Homo sapiens: one gene and its partners. The protein of the gene in region 3 purifies or fractionates together with the protein of the main gene of each other region. This does not show direct contact. Each region holds a gene or a part of one and is shown on either strand. Other genes may lie near its edges.

Region 1 (5,670 bases), on a different chromosome or scaffold from region 3:
TGAAAAATTCTTGATTTGGATGTAGTCCAATTCCTCACCATTTTTTGCCTAATGCTGTATCCTTATGGTCTTGTTTAAAAATGTTTTTCTGATTTTCTGTTACCTGTGAGCTTTGTAGTTTTATTTTTATTTTTTGAGGCAGAGTCTTGATCTGTCACCCAGGTTAGAGTTCAATGGTGTCATCTCGGCTCACTGCAACCTCCACCTCCCAGGTTCAAACAATTTTCATGTCTCAGCCTCCCGAGTAGCTGCGATTACAGGCGTGCACCATGACACCTGGCTGATTTTTTATTTTTTATTTTTCTAAATGGAGTCTCACTCTATTGCCCAGACTGGAGTGCAGTGGCATGATCTCGGCTCACTGCAACCTCTGCCTCCCGGGTTCAAGCGATTCTCCTGCCCTAACCTCCTGAGTAGCTGGGATTACAGGCGTGCACCACCATGCCTGGCTAATTTTTGTATTTTAGCAGAGATGGGGTTTCACGACGTTGGCCAGACTGGTCTCGAACTCCTGACCTCGTGATCCGCCCGCCTTGGTCTCCCAAAGTGCTGGGATTACAAGCATGAGCCACCACACCCGTCTAATTTTTGTATTTTTTGTAGAAAGGGGGTTTTGCCATGTTGGTCAAGCTGGTCTCAAACTCCTGAGCTCAAGCGATCTGCCCACTTCGGCCTCCCAAAGTGCTGGGATTACAGGTGTGATCCGCTATACCTGACCTATAGTTTTAAATATGGATTTTTTTCATATATGGGTATTTTAATCTAAATGGAACTCACTTTTGTAAATATGATTGTGAAGGGATTTAGCTCATTTTTGTCTTCCATAGGGTGAGGTAGTTTTCCCAGTGCCAGGTATTAAACAGTCCAGAGGTAGCCAGCACCCAAGACAGCCACCAGGGGTTCTTGCCTCCTGGTTTCCAGGCTCTTGTTCAGTCCCCTCCCACACCAAATAGGGCAGACCTTTTCAGATCCTCACCAAGGAGACCCTTGTGTATGACCAATAGGACATTGCAGAAATGACAGCATGTGACTTTGAAGCTAGGTCATAAAAGACATTACAGCTTCTGCCTCTCTTTGAGATCACTCACTCTATGTGAATGCTATGTGAGGACACTCAGGCATCCCTAAGCAGAGGTCCACTTGGTGAGGAACTGAAGCCCCTGCCGACAGCAAGCACAGACTCCCCGCCATAGTGGTGACCTGTCTCAGAACCAGAGCTTCTAGGCCCAGGCAAACCTTCTGATGACTGCAGCCCTAGCCAAAATCCAGACTGCAGCTTCATGACAGATTCTGGGCCAGGGCCACCCAGCTAAGCCCATCCCAAATTCCTGACCCACAGAAACTATGTGAGATAATGTTTATTTTTATTTATTTATTTTTAAATAGAGACAGAGTCTTGCTCTGTCGGCCAGGCTGGTCTCGAACTCCTGACCTCAAGCAGTCCTCCAGCCTTGGCCTCCCAAAATGCTGAGATTACAGGCATGAGCCTCCACACCTGGACTGTTGTTTTAAGCTGCTGAGTTTGTAGTAATTTGTTACCCAGTAACAGAGAACAGACTTTGGTTTCTGGAATGGGGGTCTGCCATAACAGAAACCTCAAATGTAGAAGTAACTTTACAACTGAGAAGTGGGAAGAAGCTGGAAGGACTTTGAGGAGATTGTTAGTAAAAGCTTAAGGAGTGTTAAAAAGTATTGGCTGGGCACAGTGGTTCACACTTGTAATACCATAACTTTTGGAGGCCAAGGTGGGAGGATCACTTGAGTTCAGGAGTTCGAGACCAGCCTGAGCAATATAGTGAGACCTTGTCTCTAAAAAAATTAAAAGAAAAAAGGTGAGAAAGTCTGTTAATAAGAGTCCAGTGACCTTTAAGACAGCTGCAATAAGGGCTTGAAGAACAGTTAGGAAAATGCTATTGGAAACTGATGGAAAGGAGATCCTTGTGTAGCGGCAGAAAGTTTAGCAACACTGTCTCCTGCATTAGTGTGGAGGGTAGGAAATATACCTAAGGAACGGATGGTCTAGCTAAGGAGCTTTCCAGACAGAATGTTGAAGGTGCCACCTGGCTTCTTGCTGCTTATAGTAAAACTGAAGAGGAGAGAGTAAGTTAAAGAAAAAAAACACTTAAATGAAAAAGAGCCTGAAATTGTTGGGTTTGAAAATTCCCAGCCTTTCCAGATAACAAGTGATGTTAAAATTAACAAATGGCTTCCGTGCAAAGATTAAATACAAGGCATTAAATACAGGGAAATGTGGTCTAAAGGTCAAGCTGAGGATGTGATGAAAAAGTCCTTTGTTAAGACCTCAGAAATACCAACAAGATGCCTCAGAGGGGACTTCCAGTCGAATGAAATAATAATCACGCTTCTGAGAAGGTTAAAGGTGTTGTCTTTCAGCGTCTCAGCACAAGCCCAAAGTAGAGAAGGGCTTACCTTGCAGAGATTTTCTTTTTTCTTTTTCTTTTCTTTTTTTTTTTTTTGAGATAGCTCACTGCAACCTCCTCCTCCTGGGTTCAAGTGATTCTCCTGTCTCAGCCTCCTGAGTAGCTGCGATTACAGGTGCCCACCACCACGCCCAGCTAATTTTTGTATTTTTAGTAGAGATGGGGTTTCACCATGTTGGTCAGGCTAGTCTCAAACTCCTGACCTCAGGTGATCCACCCACCTCGGCCTCCCAAAGTGCTGGGATTACAGGCGTGAGCCACTGTGCCTGGCCACTTGCAGAGATTTCTAGGTGTGGCTTTTTTCTAATGTAGTGAACCCTAAGACATGCAAGATACCCAATAAGTTATGAAGAGAATTATATTGGCAGAGACACTGCCAGCTTGGACTGAAAGGGACAGAGCCAGTGCAAAAGGACAAGACGGCTTTGCACACCCAAACTTTTACAGGCAGGAAGCAGGCAGATGAAACTGTGGAGCTGCAAACATCTTTCATGGAAGAGGTGGGACGACTCAGGGAGAGCCATGGAGAATCATTCATGAACAGGAGTAGGCATCAAAGAGTTCCTAGCATTTCTCCAACTGGATTACAGAATTTCCACACACCAGTGACTTATATGTATGACTTATATGTGCCTCCTGTCCCCTGCCCCACTTTTTTTTTTTTTTGAGACAGAGTCTTGCTATGTTGCCCAGGCTGGTCTCGAACTCCTGGGCTCAAGTAATCCTCCCACCTTGGCCTCCTGAGTAGCTGGGATGACAGGCACACGCTACCACGCCCGGCTTCCCCTGCTTTTGAGCAAGAATGTCCTTACTGGTTATCCTGTGCCTGCCTCTACCACTGCACACTGGGAGTGTGGAGATGACCTGTCTCTTTAGCTCACAGGTCTGCAGATAGGAAATGCACTTAAGGGCTGGATGCGGTGGCTCACGCCTGTAATCCCAACACTTTGGGAGGCCAAGGCAAGTGGATCACCTGAGGTCAGGAGTTAAAGACGAGCCTGGCCAACATGGTGAAATCCCGTCTCTACTAAAGAAAATTAGCTGGGATGGTGGTGCATGCCTGTAGTCCCAGCTACTTGGGATGCTGAGGCAAGAGAATCACTTGAACCTGGGAAGCAGAGTTTTCAGTGAGGTGAGATGGTGGTGGCTCTGCACTTCAGCTTGGGAGACAGAGCAAGACTCCATTTCAAAAAAAAAAAAAAAAAAGAAATGCACTTAAGGAGCCATAGTTACGGAACTGCATGCTAGAGCCACATCCCCACCTGGACCTGACTGAGATGATGAGATTCTGTACTTTGAGCTGATGCTGTAATGGGATGATGGGGGATCCTGGAAGGTGGTGAGTATATTTGGCATGTGGGAGGGGGGAAATCACTGAGAGCCAGCGGTGGCCTGTGGAGCCAGCCACCAAGGCAGCCTGATGATTCTCGTCCCCTGGTGCTCGTTCCTGTGTGTCATCTCCTTCCTCACTGGATAGGACCAACAGACCTAGGTCATAAAAGACAATGGAGGGGCCCGGCGCTGTGGCTCACGTCTGTAATCCCAGCACTTTGGGAGGCTGAGGCGAGTGGATCACCTGAGGTCGGGAGTTTGAGACCAGCCTGGCCAACATGGTGAAACCCTGTCTCTACTAAAAATACAAAAATTAGCTGGGCGTGATGGCACACCTCGGTAATCCCAGCTACTTGGGTGGTTGAGGCAGGAAAATCACTTGAACCTGGGAGGCGGAGGTTGCAGTGAGCCGATATTACGCCACTGCACTCCAGCCTGGGCGACACAGTGAGACTCCATCTCAAAAATAAAAAAGACAATGAGGCTTCCACCTTGCCCTCTCTGGAATTATTTGCTCTGGAGAAGCCAGTTGCCATGCTGCGAGGATACTCAAGCAACCCTGTGGAGAGATCTACATGGCAGGGATTTGTTGTTTCCTGCCAGCAGCTAGTGCGAACTTGCCAGCCACATGAACAAGCTTTCTCAGAGTGCATCCTCTAGGGGCGGTCATGCCTTTGATGCCCACAGCCCCACTGACATCTTGGCCACAGCCTCAGAAGAGACCCTGTGCCGGAGCCACCCAGCCGAGCCACTGCTGAGATCCTGACCCTCAGAAACAGAAGTAATAAATATTGTTAATTTAAGCTCCTAAATTGGGGGCAGTTTGTTACACAGTGATAGATAACGAATTCATACTCCGTAATTCCCCTCGCACATTTGTGGTGTCTTTTTAAAAATACCAATTCTCATATACACAGTGGTCTGTTTCTGATCGCTCTGTTGTGTTTCTCAGGTATTTTTGTTTCTGTGCCCGAACTGATACCGTTCTCACTGTTGTGGCTTTGCAGCCTATCTTAATATCTGGCAGGGTCGGCCTTTCCTCTTTGCTCTTATTTTTAAAAACTGACCTAAGTTTGGGAGGATGGCTTGAGCCCAGGAGGTCAAGGCTGCTGTAAGCTGTGGTCATGCCACTGCACTCAGCCTGGATGACAGCAAGACCCTGTCTCAAAAAAAAAAAAAAAAAAAAAATGGCCTCAGTAATTGTAGACTTTTATTATTCTCTGTTAATTTTAGAGAGTCTTATGAGTTTCTGCAAAAAACAAATCTGGAATTTGTATTAGAATTGCGCATTGAGTTTTCAAGGTTGGGAGAAGTGAGAGGGATTTTGGCATGAAGATTCTAGAAGACAGAAGAGAAAGAAGCCCATGGGTTTGCTTCAGATTTCTTTCTCCAACGTCATCCCACCCAATGAAGTTCATTCACTCAACAAATATGTTCATTCATTCAACAAATACAGAGCATCAGCTGTATACTAGGTAGTTATTCCTAGGTGGGAAGAGACAGATCATAAACAAATACAAAAAGTTAGAAAAAGTCAGACACTAACTGCTGTGTAGAAAATGAACTGATAGGCCTGGTGCAGTGGCTCACGCCTGTAATCCCAGCACTTTGGGAGGCTGAGGCGGGCTGATCACCTGAGTTCGGGAGTTCATGACCAGCCTGACCAACATGGAGAAACCTCGTCTCTACTAAAAATACAAAATTAGCTGGGTGTGGTGGCACATGCCTGTAATCCCAGCTACTCAGGAGGCTGAGGCAGGAGAATTGCTTTAACCCGGGAGGTGGAGGTTGCAGTGAGCCGAGATGGCGCCATTGCACTCCAGCCTGGGCAACAAGCGAAACTCTGTCTCAAAAAAAGAAAAAGAAAACTGATAACACAAAAGGCAGGATGTAGAGG
Region 2 (5,670 bases), on a different chromosome or scaffold from region 3:
TTTAGGTAATGGCAGACAATAGATGGATGATACAGTGTATACATGCACAGCCTGGGAAACATCCCTTAGCCATTTTGGCTGGGGTTTGGCCTGTGTTTCCTGGTGATAGTGCATGGTAACTAGTGCCACTATTCAGTCACCTTGTTTAGTTTAAGTATGAAAGGTAAAAATAAATTTAGGGATTTCATATAATGCCAGAAAATAAATGTGGAGTGAAAGTAGAGGTTTGCTAGGCTGGGTGAGATAACATTGTAGTTCAAGGTGATATCTTAAAATGAAAATACTCAGAGAAGGGCTGGACTGAACAAGTACTATATTGCTTTGTTTGCCATATCAGTTTACATAAATTATTGGTTTGTTGTCCCAGTCTATTATACTGTACTTTGGTAAAGATCCTCCCTTGGTAATATACAAGCTTGATCAAATGACAACCTCAGAACAGTGATGTATTTGGCTGAATGATTTTTGAATGAATGAAGTCAGCAGTTGCAGATAGCCCAAGACTGCCTATAAAGAAGGTGTTAAATGAGTAATTTACAGTGAAATTACTATGAGCTTAAAAAGAGATAATACAGGATTGGATATTTAGAAAAACTATTACAGGGAAGGTAAAACCTGAGTGGTATCAAGAAAGATGGACGGATCTTGAATTATTGGACATGAAGAGAGTGATCTAGCTGAATAAAGATACCAAAATGGTAGTAAGCATGAATTTTTTGGGGATATGAAGAAGTTTTGTCCTATTAGAGGGGAAAACCAGCATTTGTACTGGAGAGATGAGATGGAACCTGAAGGTAATTTTGAATGTTATACTGAGAAGTTGAGACTTGGTGTGATGGGCTAATTGTTGATTCTTCAGCAGAGATTAGCTTATTGGAAAGTAGTGTTTTAAGATGCATTATATGGCGGATAACAAGTTGTTTATTGTTATTGAGAGCTGCTTGTATAATCTTAACTCTGAATTGAAAGTAGCAACGTTTAAAAATATTAACTGTAATAAATATATTGGTACAGCTATAACTATAAAACATCTTGTAAATCATTAGCCAGTGTATTAAAACAAGTTAACTAATACTGAAATTTCAAATCATGTTCTCACTTATAATACCAGATGATTTTTAATTGCAGATTTAGTACCTCAAGACAAACTCTTATGTGGATTCCAGATTCTTTTTTTTCCAGGTATGTCTTATAATTCTTTAGTGTATATTTTAATACATTTATTTACCAAAATATAATAATGTTTGTCAGTTAAATTTTTTTTAATAAAAAAGGTTAACTCTTAAAATTATATATTTTTGAACTTGGAAGATAGATAACTTACTTTTAGTGGTCTTTAACATTTGGTAAAGAATTAGCACATTTGTTTATACTCAGATTTTAAAAACTAACTTTAGATTATTAATGACTTCCAGTTTGCTGAGTGGGAGAATTTCAACACTTCGAGATGAAACTGGTGCTGTGAGTATAATAATAATTGATACATATTCCTAAATTAATGCTTATAGTGCTTGGTCCTAACATATAGTTACTCTAAGAATATAGGAGAACTGATATTTTAATAATCACTGAATGAAAGTGGCATAATTTTATTTCTTGTCATATGTAGTTTTTTATAATCAGAGAAGATCCCTAAGTAGGGAATACTATATATGGCAATTTAAGTATTCATGATTAGAGAGATTGTAGGATATGAGCTTACATTGGCATTAGAAGAAATTTTTTTAGATCAATAATTGAAACTTTAACAGTAAGTGGATAAATGTAAATATTCTAATATTTTTATATTAGAATATAAGAGGTTAAATTAGTAAACTCCTACAGTTTTTTATTTTATTTTGGAGAATAACCTTGCGAATTTGTTTATACAGCATTGGTACAGTGAGGGAAGGAAAGAATTGTAAAGTTTCAGTGCAAAAAAATTGGTTTATCCATTTGGAGGCAACAAAGTGACCAATGGTATTTATTTGCTGTGGTGAGATTTGCAGATGAAATAAGGCAACAAATGCAGATATGTCCATGTGAAATTATAAAAAGTTATCAATAATAAGATCTCCACAAATCTGTGATGTCTCTTCGATTTTTGATGTGCTCTAATGAAAACAAAAGAAAATTTATAAAGCTTAGAAGAATCTCATTGATTGTATATATATAGTTGATCATAGTAGGAAGAGTTTTATTACTGGCTGCCATTTCCCTTTCTAATTGATTTACATAAGCTTTAAAAGATGTTCCGTTTTTATGGCCAGATCTTTTGTAAATGATTCAAAATAGGTGTTGGTATAAATTTCCATAAAAAGTTATCAATTATGGGCTGGGTGGGGTGGCTTATGCCTGTAATTCCAGCACTTTAGGAGGTCGAGGCAAGTGGATTACCTGAGGTCAGAAGTTCAAGACCAGCATGGCCAACATGGTGAAACCCCCTCTCTACTAAAAACAGAAAAATTAACCCGGCATAGTGGCAGGTGCCTCTAATCCCAGCTACTCAGGAGGCTGAGGCAGGAGAATTGCTTGAACTTAGGAGGTGGAGGTTGCAGTGAGCCCAGATCGTGCCACTGCACTCCAGCCTAGATGAGAGAGCAGGATGCTGTCTCAAAACAAACAAACAAACAAAAGTTACCAATTATGTATTTTACATTTTTAAGCAATTTGTTTTCCTCTTATGTATTCTGTGGTGCTTTAGTTTAAAAAAAAAAAATTGTCATTACCTTTCCCCAGCTCTGAAGGAAATTGAGATTAGTAAAAGTATTATGAGAATAGTATTCTTTTCCACTTTTGACAGCAGTGTGCAGTATTTACTTTTCTCAAGTACCCCTGTGTGCATTATTAAAGTACATTGTAGTTTTAATGATTGAACAGTATAAGAAAGTATTATTTATTCATGTTTTCGAAGTATTAATTGAATTCTAGACTGTTTCAGATAAAAATGTTTCCTCAGGTGTCACTTTTACCAAAGGTATCAATACAAGTGATTTTATTAGACAAGATTTTTTCTATGTATTAAAATATCAGTTTAATAATAACTATTCAGAGGAAGAAAAAGACACCATCTCAAGAAAAAGACACCATCTCATGAAATGCACACAGACTACATTCCAATTTTAGAAACATTAAAGTTTAAGAGTGGAAACAAGGAAATGTAGTATTTAAGTAATTAAGACTTCATTCCCTATTAGTGTTACAGATATTAAAGTTAAAAGATTAATTTGTAATTTGAAAATAAAACTGTTCTCTTTTTTACAGATATTTATTGATAGAGATCCAGCAGCATTTGCACCCATTTTAAATTTTCTTCGGACAAAAGAACTAGACTTAAGGTAAGAAATGCACTCTTTTTAAAGTAAATTCTTACTGATAAATATGTGTTTTTAATATGTTTTATGAAATAAAAGGTTTTTTTTGTTTGTTTTTTTTTTTCCTTGAGTTGCAGTCTTGCTCTGTTGCCCAGGCTGGAGTGCAGGAGTGCAGTGGCATGATCTCTGCTCACTGCAACCTCCGCCTTTCAGGTTCAAACAATTCTCCTGCCTCAGCCTCCCGAGTAGCTGGGACTGTAGGCACATGCCACCATGCCCGGCTGATTTTTTGTATTTTAGTAGAGAAGGGGTTTCACTGTGTTGCCCAGGCTGATTGCAAACGCCTGAGCTCAGGCAGTCTCCCCGCCTTAGCCTCCCAAAGTGCAGGGATTACAGGAATGAGCCACTACGCCCAGCCAGAAAAGGTTTTTTTTTTTTTACTAAGACTTTGATTAAAAGTTTCCTCACACTGAAACTGGATGTGGTGGTACACGCCTATAATCCCAGCTACTCTAGAGAAGAAGCTGAGGCAGGAGGATCCCTTGAGGCCGGGAGTTTGAGGCTGCAGTGAGTTATGATCATGCCTCTGGCCAGTACTGCTGTACTGTTAACACAAATAGTTTCGAAATAGAATAAGAAAGTTTGAAGCTTTTTTTTTTTGAGACTGAGTCTTACTCTGTCACCCAGACTCACTGCAATCTCCACCTCCCGGGTTCACGCCATTCTCCTGCCTTAGCCTCCCAAGTAGCTGGGACTACAGGCACCCGCCACCACACCCGGCTAATTTTTTTGTATTTTTAGTAGAGATGGGGTTTCACCGTTTTAGTCATGATGGTCTCCATCTCCTCACCTCGTAATCCACCCGCCTTGGCCTCCCAAAGTGCTGGGATTACAGGTGTGAGCCACCGCCCCCAGACACAAAGTTTTAAGCATTTTTAATGTTAAACTAGTCATAACCAGTTTCACAAATAAAAACAATTTAACATAGTAATTGTATATATTTATCAAGGCTGGGGAATATTTTTAAAATAAGGACAAATTACAACTGAAACCTAAGATGAATTATTAGTATTATAAGTTCTGAATCTTCCATTTTTTAAAAATTTTATTTCATGTTACTTAACTTTACTACTATGAAGTAGCATCATTTCATCTGGATAACATAGCCCTTCCCAAGGCTAGTCTTTTTTTTTTTTCTATTTTATTTGTTCAACAAATATTTATTACATAACTATTTTATACAAGCACTATGCTAGGCACTGTGAGGTATACAAACATAGATCAGAAATAGATCATGCTCGCAGGGAATTTATAGTGTAATTGGGGAGATTAAGATAGATATGTATAGAAATAATTGCGATAAAAAGTTAAAAGCAACTAATGCCATAAAAGAATGGTTTCCATTCTATCGTTTGCCTTCTAGACAATTTATTTGTACTAGCCTGATAGAGCCCTAATCTCTCCTTTAGTGACCCAATTCATATATATGTATATATATGAATGGTTTTTAAGTAGATAACAGAATATTTTTGTTCACATGCAGTTTTTATTTACACTTTTTAATGATTAAGGATAATAGAAATAAAGAGTATTAGGAGGAAAATAATTTTTAAAGCCTTATGACTATATACATGAAGAACCTAGAATTTTTTCCTTTCATGTCAGATGATAATACAGGTTTCCAGTGTTAGAGAATTTACATCATTTGTTTCTTTGTAGGGGAGTGAGTATTAATGTTCTCAGGCATGAAGCAGAATTTTACGGGATCACTCCATTAGGTATGTGCTCTTTTAATATTTGGTGTTTATGATTTGACTCATGTATGAAAGTTGCCCTAAATGAAATGTGTTTATATCAGGTCCTAATTTTTGATGGACTTGTTCAGTGCTTAGTTTTTGTGGATTTTCATAGTAAAAAGATGTTGTCAACTCTGACTTAATTAAAATTTTCCTTTTCTTTCCTTATCCTCTTGAACTAGAGAAAATAAAAATGGAGTACTGTTTTTCTGTTTGCATGTACTCTTGACAAGTTTGCTTTGAAATGTTTTTAGTAAGAAGGCTTCTCTTATGTGAAGAATTGGAGCGTTCCTCTTGTGGCAGTGTCCTTTTTCATGGTTACTTGCCCCCACCAGGTATTTTCACTTTATTAAATCTTTTAAAAAATTCCTTGTATCATTAAGCAAGTACAAGCATATGAATAGGAAAAACTGCTCCTTGATTATTGAGTTTTTTGTCTATAAATCTATTAGAAATGGTAAGAACTTTTGATTTTTATAGAAATTAAGTCACATTATATATTGGAGCAGGGGTTTGGCAAACTTTTTCTGTAAAGAGCCAGATAGATTTTGTGAGCCAGAGGATCTCTGTGACAGCCACTT
Region 3 (5,670 bases):
ATAGCCAGCTCCAAATCTCAGGTTGGCCTGAGCTGCAGTGAAGTGGCTGTCATCGAACCTGGCCTGAGTGGTCTACTCTTTCCTACAGAAAATCCGATAAGCACTTTGATTTGAGTATAGGCCATCTGCGACCCTTCTTCCTGTGAAGTCAGGCCAGAGTTTATCATAAAAGCTTGCCCAGCTTAAGAGAATATAACTATGTCACCTGCAAATAGGAAAATGAGCACCTTCCTGTTTTGTACAATGTAGATCGGAATATCCAGTTTATCAAAAAGTGGTCTCCAGTCATTAAAGTAGTCCAACCCTACAGACATTTTTGGGGGAGCACAATGTGTGCACCCCTACTATTCTAAATCCTGGTGGGTATGCAGCTGGACTTCCTGGTGCTTAAGCAGGGTGGGGGTGGCAGGGGAGGTAAGAACACACTCCTGTGTCTCCTCCCTCTGGGGCCCTTGCTCTGGGACTCACTCTTACTGGAGTACTGAAGTGGGGGTTTTCTGCCACTCGGTACCGAGGGAGTCCATTTTGAATTGGTGTGTCTTAATCCAAAATGGATCCCTGGCCAGGCCTGGTGGCTCACACCTGTAATTCCAACATTGTGGGAGGCCAAGGCGGAAGAGCTGCTTGAGACCAGGAGTTCAAGACCACCTGGTCAACAGAGCAAGACTCCAGTCTCCACAAAAAATAAGAAAAATAGCTGGGTGTGGTGGTGCGCACCTGTAGTCCTGGCTACTTGCCAGGATGAAGCAGCAGGCTGCTTCAGCCCAGGAATTTGAGGTTACGGTGAGCTCTGATCACACCATTGTACTCCAGCGTGAGCAAGAGTGAGACCCTGTTTCCAAAATAAAATACCAAAACAAAACCCTGATTCTTGTCCTGGAAACAGATGGCAGAAAAAGATAAAAGCCACAGTCCACCACACGCCTCCCAACATATTTCTTTTTTTCTCTTTTTTTTTTTTTTTTTTTGAGACGGAGTCTTGCTCTGTCGCCCAGGCTGGAATGCAGTGGTGCGATCTTGGCTCGCTGCAACCTCTGCCTCCCGGGATCAATTGATTCTCCTGACTTAGCCTCCCAAGTAGCTGGGATTACAGGCGCCCACCACCACGCCCAGCTAATTTTTGTGGTTTTAGTAGAGACGGGGTTTCACCAGGCTGGCCAGGCTGGTGTCGAACTCCTGACCTCAGGTGATCCGCCCGCCTCGGCCTCCCAAAGTGCTGGGATTACAGGTGTGAGCCACTGCACATGGTGGGAAGAGCACAGCTGGCCATACCTAGGACTAGCCCGATCTGTGTGTCAGCCACTGACCCATTTTACCAGTGAGGAAATTGAGGCTCAGGGAGGTTAAGTAACTTGCCTGTGGTCACACAGGGAACAAGGGCAGAGCCAGAATGTCAACGGAGGAGTGTGCACCCTTTCAACTACACTCTGTGCGCAATGTTTAACCGGAGCCTCGTGTATTCATTTGTAAGTCACAGAAAATAATTATATTTACAGGGGGAATCTAAAGATTTCAGGGGACAACCTGTAGACTGACTCTCATTTAGCAGGGGCCCAATAAGCGATTATGCCCATCCACTTGAGCTTGTATTGACGTAACTACTCTCCTCATGACTACCACTCAAAGAATATACAAAGGACCTCTCATTTTCCCAGAAATAACCTCTCTATATGAACAGGCACAGCCAATGTGGAATGGCCTTATGTCTACTGAGCACATCACATGCACAGCTCTTCATTTCATCCCCACACTAATCATGTAATACAGGCATGACTGTCCCTATCTGACAGAGGAGGAAACAGGGTAGAGTTTAAATCAACAAGAAAGTACTTTCTCTCCACTATACCAGCACATAAGCGGGACTCAATCTCATTTAAATAAGTTCTATTTTCTTTATCCAAATAAGAAGGCTGTTATTTGATCACATAGTTAATAATAAAGATGTGTTCAGACCACAAATGGGGATACACACACACACACACACACACCCCTCTACAAACACATGTAAAATTAAATCACAGTCCTGCCATAAATAAAGCCTTTTTCTTTAATAATATCATGATTACTACCTTTGTTTTTGTGCTGAGGAGGGATTAAACTATACAAAATTTTAGAGTCCAACGTGTCTTTGGGCTGACAGGAAAGGCTGGGCAATCTGGGAAATGAATCCCTCCCTCTCTCCCACAATCATCAGGATCCAGGCCCCCAGATGGGCTGGGCAGTGCTCTTTGTTCAGAGACCTCATTTCTCGTGGCCTAAGACAAGGAAGGAACGCAGCTGGTGCTCCATGCCTAGGAGTGCCCCTCTGTTTATCTGGCATCCAAGTGGCTGCTGACACCCCATTCCAAGCCTACCAAGCCCCGAAGGACCTTCCAAGTTGGCAGAAAGGACTCCTTGGACCCCTCTGACCAGGGCCAGGAGCCCTCCCTTATCAAACCTGTAGAGCCAGGCAGGGTGGCCATGCCCTTGAATTTCCTCCACACACAGGGCACTAGCAGCTTTGTTTCACCCCAGGCCCTGATCATGGGGCCCACAGAGAGGGGTCCCAGGTAGAGGGACAGTTTGGAAAGGGTCGGCATGGATGGGATGGCCTGTGGAGCGAGATAGAGAAAGAGTGTGCAAGGGACCCAAAATGGAGGAAAAATAAACAGGCGTCCTGTTTACTAAACATGGGCCCCTGGAACTACTGGCCTGACCCCACCTGTGGGCTGTTCTGCATGGTGGAGAGGACAGGCCTCTGGTCTCAAGTCCTTGCTCTGTCACTTCTTAGTGGTACAGTCCTGGATGAATCTCTTAAACTCCCTGAGCCTCAGTTTCTTTGCCTATAAAGTGGGAATAATAATATCTACCTCAATGAATTTCTGTGAGGCCCAATAAGAAGCACTCCCTGAACCCAGTCTAGATTGGGTCCCATGTTGTCACTCCTGTGATGCCATGCATTAAATACAGGGCTATAGTTGAAGTTGCTCTACCACTTATTAACTGTGGAAAAGTTAGTAAAGTTTGCCATGCCTCAGTTTCTTCCTCTGTAAAACAGAGATAATTATAGAGATTATATAATTATGTGAGAGTACTAAAGTTAAATGAGTTGGCATATGTAAAGTGCCGAGAGCAGCGTCTGCTACATAGTAAACTGAACATAAGTGATGGCTATTATTATTATTCTTTGAAACTGAATTCTTGACATTTGACATGTCTTTTACACTAGACTATAATTTATTCATCCTTATAGATATGTACTGAGCACCCATCATGTATGGATGCTGCTCCAAATGCCAGAACACAGTGATAACACAGACAAGGCCTCTGCTCTCATGAAGCTTAGAGTCTAGTGGCAGTGGCAGAAAACCAAAAAGAGAATGCCAAGTCTAACGAGTGCTATGGGAAGAATAAAAGAGGGTGAGATCTAAGAACATGTGGTCAGGAAGGCTTCTCTTGGGCCTCAGGAGCATCGAGGAGCCAGCCGTGGAAAGATCTGGGGCAAGAGGGTTCTAGGCAGACAGAACGCAAGTGCCAAGGCCTTGAGGCAGGAATGCGCTTGGCACATCTGAGGACCAGCAGGGTCTGTGTGGCAGGAAGGTAGATCATGTGGGGGCTTGGGGCCAGGGTAAGGGCTTAGGTTTTATTATAAAAGATGGGAAGTCAATTCAGCTGAGGTGGGGGATAGTGGTGACATGATCTGGCTTATATTTTAAATAGATCCAAAATGACTGCTGGGTAGACAGTGGCTTAGAGTCAGTCTCCCCAAGCAGTCATTTTGGATCTATTTAGTACCTCCACTTCAGTACTACAGTAAGAGTGAGGTGGAGGTTATAAGCAAGGAGACAAATTAGGAGACACGATGAAAAATGACAGTGGCTTAGACTATCTAAGCTGCCCCTACTTTAGATACCTTTCTCAAACAACTCTGCTCAGGAGGTACTAATATTATCATCCCGATTTTACAGATGTAGAAACTATGGCATAGAGGCCAGGTGCAGTGGCTCACGCCTATCATCCCAGCACTTTGGGAGGCCAAGGTGGGAGGATCACTTGAGCCCAGGAGTTCGAGACCAGCCTAAGTAACGTAACAAAACCCTGTCTCTACGAAAAATAGAAAAATTAGCTGGGCGTGGGGTGCACGCCTTTAATCCCAGCTACTGGAGAGGCTGACGCACAAGAATCACTTGAACCCGGGAGGCAGAGGGTGCAGTGAGCCAAGATTACGCCACTACACTCCAGCCTGGGCGACAGAGCAAGACTGTCTCAAAAAAAGAAAAAGAAAAAAAAAGTATGGCATAGAGGGGTTAAATAACTTTCCCAAGGCACACAAATACGGGGAGCTGAGGTGCAAACCCAAGTAGTCTGATCTACAGCCTGTGTGCTTAACCACCACACCACACTGCTTCCTAGACAAGTAAAAATTGCCCCAGGAACATGAAGGCAGAGACCCTATTTGTATTCTAGATAGCACTGGCCTGGCACAAAGTAAACCCTCAATAAATGTTTGTTGAATGAATGAATGAATGATGTGGAAATACTTTTGTAAATTGAGAAATGCTCATGTAGACATTCTTATTGCTAAGTCCTTCAACTAATAGAAATTCCATTGATCTCACACTTTTGTCTAATGCTTAATACATTTTCCAGGGAAAAAGAAAAGAACTAAGGCAGGACACTTATTAGAGGCAAACAGTAGCTTGACAAACCTGGCCTGGGACAGATTCAAGAGGTCCGGCTAGGAAAACTCCCGAGGTTGGCATCTTGTCCATTAGAGCCTCCAGAACTTGGAGAAAGTTCCATTCTACCCAAGGAATCATCTGCCCACCCCCATCCTCTATCTTTCTATCTATTCTATTTAAATTGTCAGTTTACATGACACTTTCAAGCATTTTTCTCATGCAGATGGGAAAATATTTAAAATCTGGGTGGCCTCAAGAGAAAGGCCTGATACAAATAATATAATACTTCTTACTTCTGAACGATGGTTGGATACACATATTCATGGCAAGAGAACAGCCTTTTGTCTTCCTGGCCCACTTACTGTCTTTGGAGTCATTTCTTTGGGTATGGCCTGGGCGGTCCCAGCAGGAAGGCTGTGTGGGCTTCTCCCCAGTGAAATCCAGAACCATGAGCCATTCTTGCCCTGTTTCACACGGTCAGGAGGGAGAAAGGGCGCTGGCAGATGAAGGAAGCCCAGAGCTGGAAGGGACCCTAGCCAAACCCTAACATTTTACAGTCAGCTGGATTCTGGTGCCCTTTCCACTGTATCCTGGGGGCTTTCTCACACTTTTGCAATGGAGTGAATCCCTTTTTAATGATCTCCCACTCCTTCCAAAAAGAACACTTATTTACTTACTTTACCTACAGTTAAGATGGGCTTACAGGCATTAATATTATTGTTCAGTTGGCTCTTCTGGAGGTATTCTGATTAGCCCCATTTTACAGGTGGGAAAACCAAGGCTCTTTAAAAAATGAGACAAGCTCTAAATTCTGGGAAACCCCAGGTCTCTAACCCCAAATTTGTGGGGCTCTTGCTGTGTGTTAGGGACTATTCGGTGCGTTACCTATATGAACGCCTGGGTGCTGGCATTATTATACCTATTTTTTTGGATGTGGAAACTGAGCTCAGGGTGGGTATTTGAGCACAGTCACAGAGCCAGAACTCAAATCTGGCTGTCACACAAGGCC
Region 4 (4,732 bases), on a different chromosome or scaffold from region 3:
TTGGCACATCTCATCAAAACAGAAAACAATCACTGAAACAAAACCCTGTTCATTCCTTCACAGTTCTTTAGTGAGAATCAAATACACTGATGGATGTAGAAATATTGTAAAAAGTTAATTTTTTACTGTTGGTCTTAAGACGTAATAGTTCTATAAGTGTACTTCAAGGTAAGATCAGAATTATAGGCACAGATTTATGTGTAAGAATGTTCATCACATTGCTATTTAAATTATGGGCACATTTTCCAGTATTATAAGGTTCATCAATAAAGGGATTGTGAAAGTCTTCCACATAGCTATTCAAAATTATTTTAAGAAATATTTGAGGATAGGGGCCGGGCGTGGTGGCTCAGGACTGTAATCCCAGCACCTTGGGAGGCTGAGGTGGGTGGATCGCCTGAGGTCAGGAGTTTGAGACCAGCCTGGCCAACGTGGTGAAACCCTGTCCCTACTAAAAATACAAAAATTAGCTGGGTGTGGTGGCTTGCGCCTGTAGTCCCAGCTACTCGGGAGGCTGAGGCAAGAAAATCGCTTGAACCTGGGAGGCGGAGGTTGCAGTGAGCTGAGACTGCACCACTGCATTCTAGCCTGAGTGACAGAGGCTCTGTCTAAAAATATGTATATTATATATAAATATTATATATTATATATATTATGTATAATATATAAATGTTATATACTATAAATGTTATATATTATATAATATATAATTGCTACATATATAATATATAACATAATGTATAATATATAATGTATTATATATAATGTATAAAATATACATTATATGATGTATAAAATATGTATTATATAGTATATGATATATAATGTAATATACATATTTTATATATTTATATATTTCATATAAATATATATTATACATAATAGGTATATATGTTATATAATAAATATGTAAATATTATATAAATTATATAATAAAAGTATATATAAATATATATTACATATATACTTTTTTTTTGAGACTAAGTCTCGTCTCTGTCACCCAGGCTGAAGTGCAGTGGCTCAATCTCGGCTCACTACAAGCTTCGCCTCCCGGGTTCAAGCGATTCTCCTGTCTCAGCCTCCTGAGTAGCTGAGACTGCAGGCATGCGCCACCAAGCCCGGCTAATTTTTGTATTTTTAGTAGAGATGGGGTTTTACCACGTTTGCCAGGCTGGTCTTGAACTCCTGACCTCAGGCGGTCCGCCCGCCTCGGCCTCCCAAAGTGCTGGGATTACAAGTGTTAGCCATCTTGCCTGGCAAAAAAAGAAATATTTGAGGATATGGAGAAATACTCATGATTTAGTGTTATGCTTAGAAACACGATATAAAATTGAATATATCCATAACCCAGTTTTAGCTATCTGTGACTAGTAAAAAAAAAAATGCGAAAATGTGAAGACTAGAAGGAATACATAAAATGTTAATAATAGCTAATTTTTTGTAATGAAATTACATGCAGATGATTTTTTAACAATAAAACATGTTACTATGTATCAGAACAAACATGGTGTAATTTTTTTTAATGGTGAAGCTATAGGAATTGACTCTAGAGATACCATATCAGGATGTGGGTGACCTGCCTGTCTGCATCTTTGCAGGTCCTGGAACAACCTGTACTGTGTGCTCAGGAACAGTGAGCTAACCTTCTACAAGGATGCCAAGAACCTGGCCCTGGGGATGCCCTACCATGGGGAGGAACCCCTGGCCCTGAGACATGCCATCTGTGAGATTGCTGCCAACTACAAGAAGAAGAAGCACGTCTTTAAGCTGAGGTGAGGCCTTCCTGGCCTTTGAAAGCTCGGGTTGATGGCTTGATTTGGCATTAGTGGCAGGGCAGAGGCCCTCTGTAGGGGACCAGTGCCAGGCCTGAGCTGCTCCTCAGGGGTTTTTCAAATCAAAGAGGCTGATGGTCCAGACTTTGACCTCTCAGAAAGTGCTGGGCTGCCTGAGAGGGGTCTGGATGTTCGGCTCAGGGTATTGTGGGATCAGAGCCAGCCCTCTGCCCAGCGCCCCCTCCAGAGGTGTCTCCATGACAGGAAACCCTTTGTCCTCCTAGGCTGAGTAATGGCAGCGAGTGGCTCTTCCATGGCAAGGATGAGGTAAGCGCGGGCAGCCTAGCCCAGACCTGGCTAAGAAGGGGGTAGGTGGAGGACCCCAGGCCGCTTGCCCTGGAGGCCCCCTCAGAAGGGGCAGTCCCAAGAGCCCCCACCATTGTTGCCTGGCCCGGGAGGTGGGGGGCTGTGGGCCTCCAGACTCCACCGTGACCCTCCGCCCCGCAGGAGGAGATGCTGTCCTGGCTGCAGGGCGTGAGCACCGCCATCAACGAGTCCCAGAGCATCCGCGTCAAGGCGCAGAGCCTGCCCCTGCCTTCCCTCTCCGGCCCCGACGCCAGCCTCGGCAAGAAAGACAAGGAGAAGAGATTCAGCTTCTTCCCCAAAAAGAAGTAGCAGGTGGGGCTGGCGGGCGCGGCGGAGTCGGGACGCGCAGAGACCGGGCAGCCCAGGCCTTGGCCTCCTCTCGCCGCCGCCCGCCGGTCGAATCGAGATGAGTCGAGTCGCGGGCCGGGCCCCCGGGCCCCACGCTGCACTGCAAAAGCTGCCTTCGCCCGCGTGTCCTGGGCCGACGCCCCCTCCATGCCCTCGCCCGCGCTGGCTCCGCTCCAGGGACAGGGGCTCCCAGCTCCTCTGGCGCCTTTGGGGCCTCCAGGCCTGGGGGCAGGAAACGGTTCTCTGAGGCACACGCCCTCCTCTCCCACCCTCCTCCTGAGCCGAGGGGGCACAGGCCCCTTACCCCCAACCAAAAAAAAAAAAAAAAAAGAGCTGGAGAAGGCTGATGGGGTTCTTCAAACGCTGCCCGTTCCTAAAGCAAGTCTTGCTTCGGGTCACCTCCCACCTGGTGGCAGCCAGGGAAAGGGGAAAGGAAGAAGACACTGGAAATGCATGGCCAGCCCCCTAGGGGCATGAGGAAGGAGCCTTCAGGTGGCCCACAAAGCCCTAGCTCTGGGCCAGGGGCTCTGGGGGGCTGAGGGGACCAGACTGGGTGCAGGGCCTTGGGAGCTGCCAGCCTCCTTCCCACTGGGCTTCCGCAGAACTGGGACTCTCACTTCAGGGGCCACCACATCCCTCCTCTCTGCTTCTCCCCCCAGATCAAAGGGTACCCTCCCACGGTTGGCAGGGCCTGGCTGAGTGCCTCTAGCACCCTTTGTGCCACCACAGGCGGTCCCAGGAAGGGCAGCAAGGTCAGACCATTCCTCATTGAAAACCGTGGCTAGGGCACAGGGCTCTGATCTGAAGGAGTGACAGGTGCGTCACAACACTGCCTAAGGCTCTCCCTCTCAATGCTGGGACCCTCGCCCCACTCCCAGTGGCAGCCAAACCAGCAATATCCAACAGACATAGGCCCCCTACGGGACAGTGTGGGCCCCCAGATATAAGATGGATACCCCCCGCACCTGCAGTAAAGCATCCCAAAGCCAAATGCTCAATTGCATCCTGTCTGCAGCTGGGACTTTGGAGGGTAATGGCTGGGCAGACAGTAAAGTTGATCATCTGTTTTCTCGGGGTGGCAGACGCAGCCATGTCTTGGTATCACCACCCATGTGACAGCTACTCCTGCACAACTGGGACAAATGTCAGGGCCAGAGCCATGAAGGTGTGGTACCCCTTGATCAGCTTCTCCACGTCCTGGCCCCAGGTCTTGGCGGGGAGGGGGTCACATGAGTACAGAGGTCAAATATCTACCACCCTCCAGCCCTGAGCACCAGAAGCTCTGCAACCAACGTCCCCAGGAATGGCCTTCCCCTTGCTGCTCAGGTCATACTTCTGGAGGAAGAGAAAGCTCATTCCATATTTTCCCCACCACTCTACTCCGAAAGCAACACAGTTCTGGCCCAGTATCAAACTAGGGTTAGGTCCAAGAGAGCAGTCAAGCGGGTCGGGGGTGGGGGGGAGGGCGGAGGGCAGCAGGCATTTTCCCCCAAGGAAACCATGAAAGTCCCCAGGGCCTGCAGTCAAGTTTCTATCACCTTCCCCGTGAGAAGGACCTTAGTTCCATGGAGATGAAGTGGGTGAGGTTCAGGTAGAAGCCACAGGGGCAGGCATCCAGAATGAGGCCCCCTGAGGAACCCTGAGTGCTGACCAGTGCCGGCAGAAATCAGTTCCACCCTGTGGCCCTGACACTATATGTCAGGGTGACACCAACTGCAGCAGGCAGGAGCCACAGGAAGGAAGACGTCATCCGATGGAGCCTGACATCCCCAGGTTCCCGCCCTGGTGAGCAAGGTCTTCATTTGGCTTTGGTACATATGACCCTATACAGGGAACCTAGTGTGTATCACTCACCAGCCTCTTTCTGTATCTGGGGAAACCAAGGCAGTGAGGTGACTGCACTCACCTAGCAATAAAGTAGGCCTTTGGTGCACTTGCAGGCATGTCCTCCTCTGGGGCAGAGAGCAGGTTCCTTGCTGAAGGGCAGATGGTGGCAAACATCTCCCTCAACTGTTTCCCTGGGCCAGTCTTTAGGGAGCCTAGGGACAAGGGCCCACCCTCCCCCTTCCACGTGTGCCAAATCAGCACCTGAAGTGAGGCATTTCCAGCAAGCAACTCCACAGACCCGAGAAAGGAAGGGCTCTAGTGGAAGAGCTAGCATCTCACCACCCCAGGTCCCCTGGCCTGGTCCAGGGCAGCCAGCTGCATGTGACCATTCTGTTGCCAGCTCCCCACACATCCCTCCT

What was found.
Region 1: the proteins of MTURN (region 3) and KCTD13 purify together in Homo sapiens (affinity purification with mass spectrometry; one large-scale study listed by BioGRID and IntAct). This does not show direct contact.
Region 2: the proteins of MTURN (region 3) and KCTD3 purify together in Homo sapiens (affinity purification with mass spectrometry; one large-scale study listed by BioGRID and IntAct). This does not show direct contact.
Region 4: the proteins of MTURN (region 3) and SPTB purify together in Homo sapiens (affinity purification with mass spectrometry; one large-scale study listed by BioGRID and IntAct). This does not show direct contact.

The regions. Positions count from the first base shown.
Region 1 is NC_000016.10:29,912,413-29,918,082, reverse strand, and holds part of KCTD13 (BTB/POZ domain-containing adapter for CUL3-mediated RhoA degradation protein 1), read left to right. Parts: intron 1-5,670. UniProt on the Homo sapiens protein: Substrate-specific adapter of a BCR (BTB-CUL3-RBX1) E3 ubiquitin-protein ligase complex required for synaptic transmission.
Region 2 is NC_000001.11:215,572,658-215,578,327, forward strand, and holds part of KCTD3 (BTB/POZ domain-containing protein KCTD3), read left to right. Parts: intron 1-1,128; coding exon 1,129-1,182; intron 1,183-1,409; exon of another isoform or gene 1,410-1,415; coding exon 1,416-1,461; intron 1,462-3,243; coding exon 3,244-3,317; intron 3,318-5,012; coding exon 5,013-5,071; intron 5,072-5,271; exon of another isoform or gene 5,272-5,333; coding exon of another isoform or gene 5,334-5,343; coding exon 5,344-5,424; intron 5,425-5,670. UniProt on the Homo sapiens protein: Accessory subunit of potassium/sodium hyperpolarization-activated cyclic nucleotide-gated channel 3 (HCN3) up-regulating its cell-surface expression and current density without affecting its voltage dependence and kinetics.
Region 3 is NC_000007.14:30,136,713-30,142,382, reverse strand, and holds part of MTURN (maturin), read right to left. Parts: intron 1-5,670. UniProt on the Homo sapiens protein: Promotes megakaryocyte differentiation by enhancing ERK and JNK signaling as well as up-regulating RUNX1 and FLI1 expression. Represses NF-kappa-B transcriptional activity by inhibiting phosphorylation of RELA at 'Ser-536'.
Region 4 is NC_000014.9:64,747,021-64,751,752, reverse strand, and holds part of SPTB (spectrin beta chain, erythrocytic), read left to right. Parts: intron 1-1,503; exon of another isoform or gene 1,504-1,598; coding exon 1,599-1,772; exon of another isoform or gene 1,773-2,056; coding exon 2,057-2,099; exon of another isoform or gene 2,100-2,279; coding exon 2,280-2,447; 3' UTR 2,448-4,732.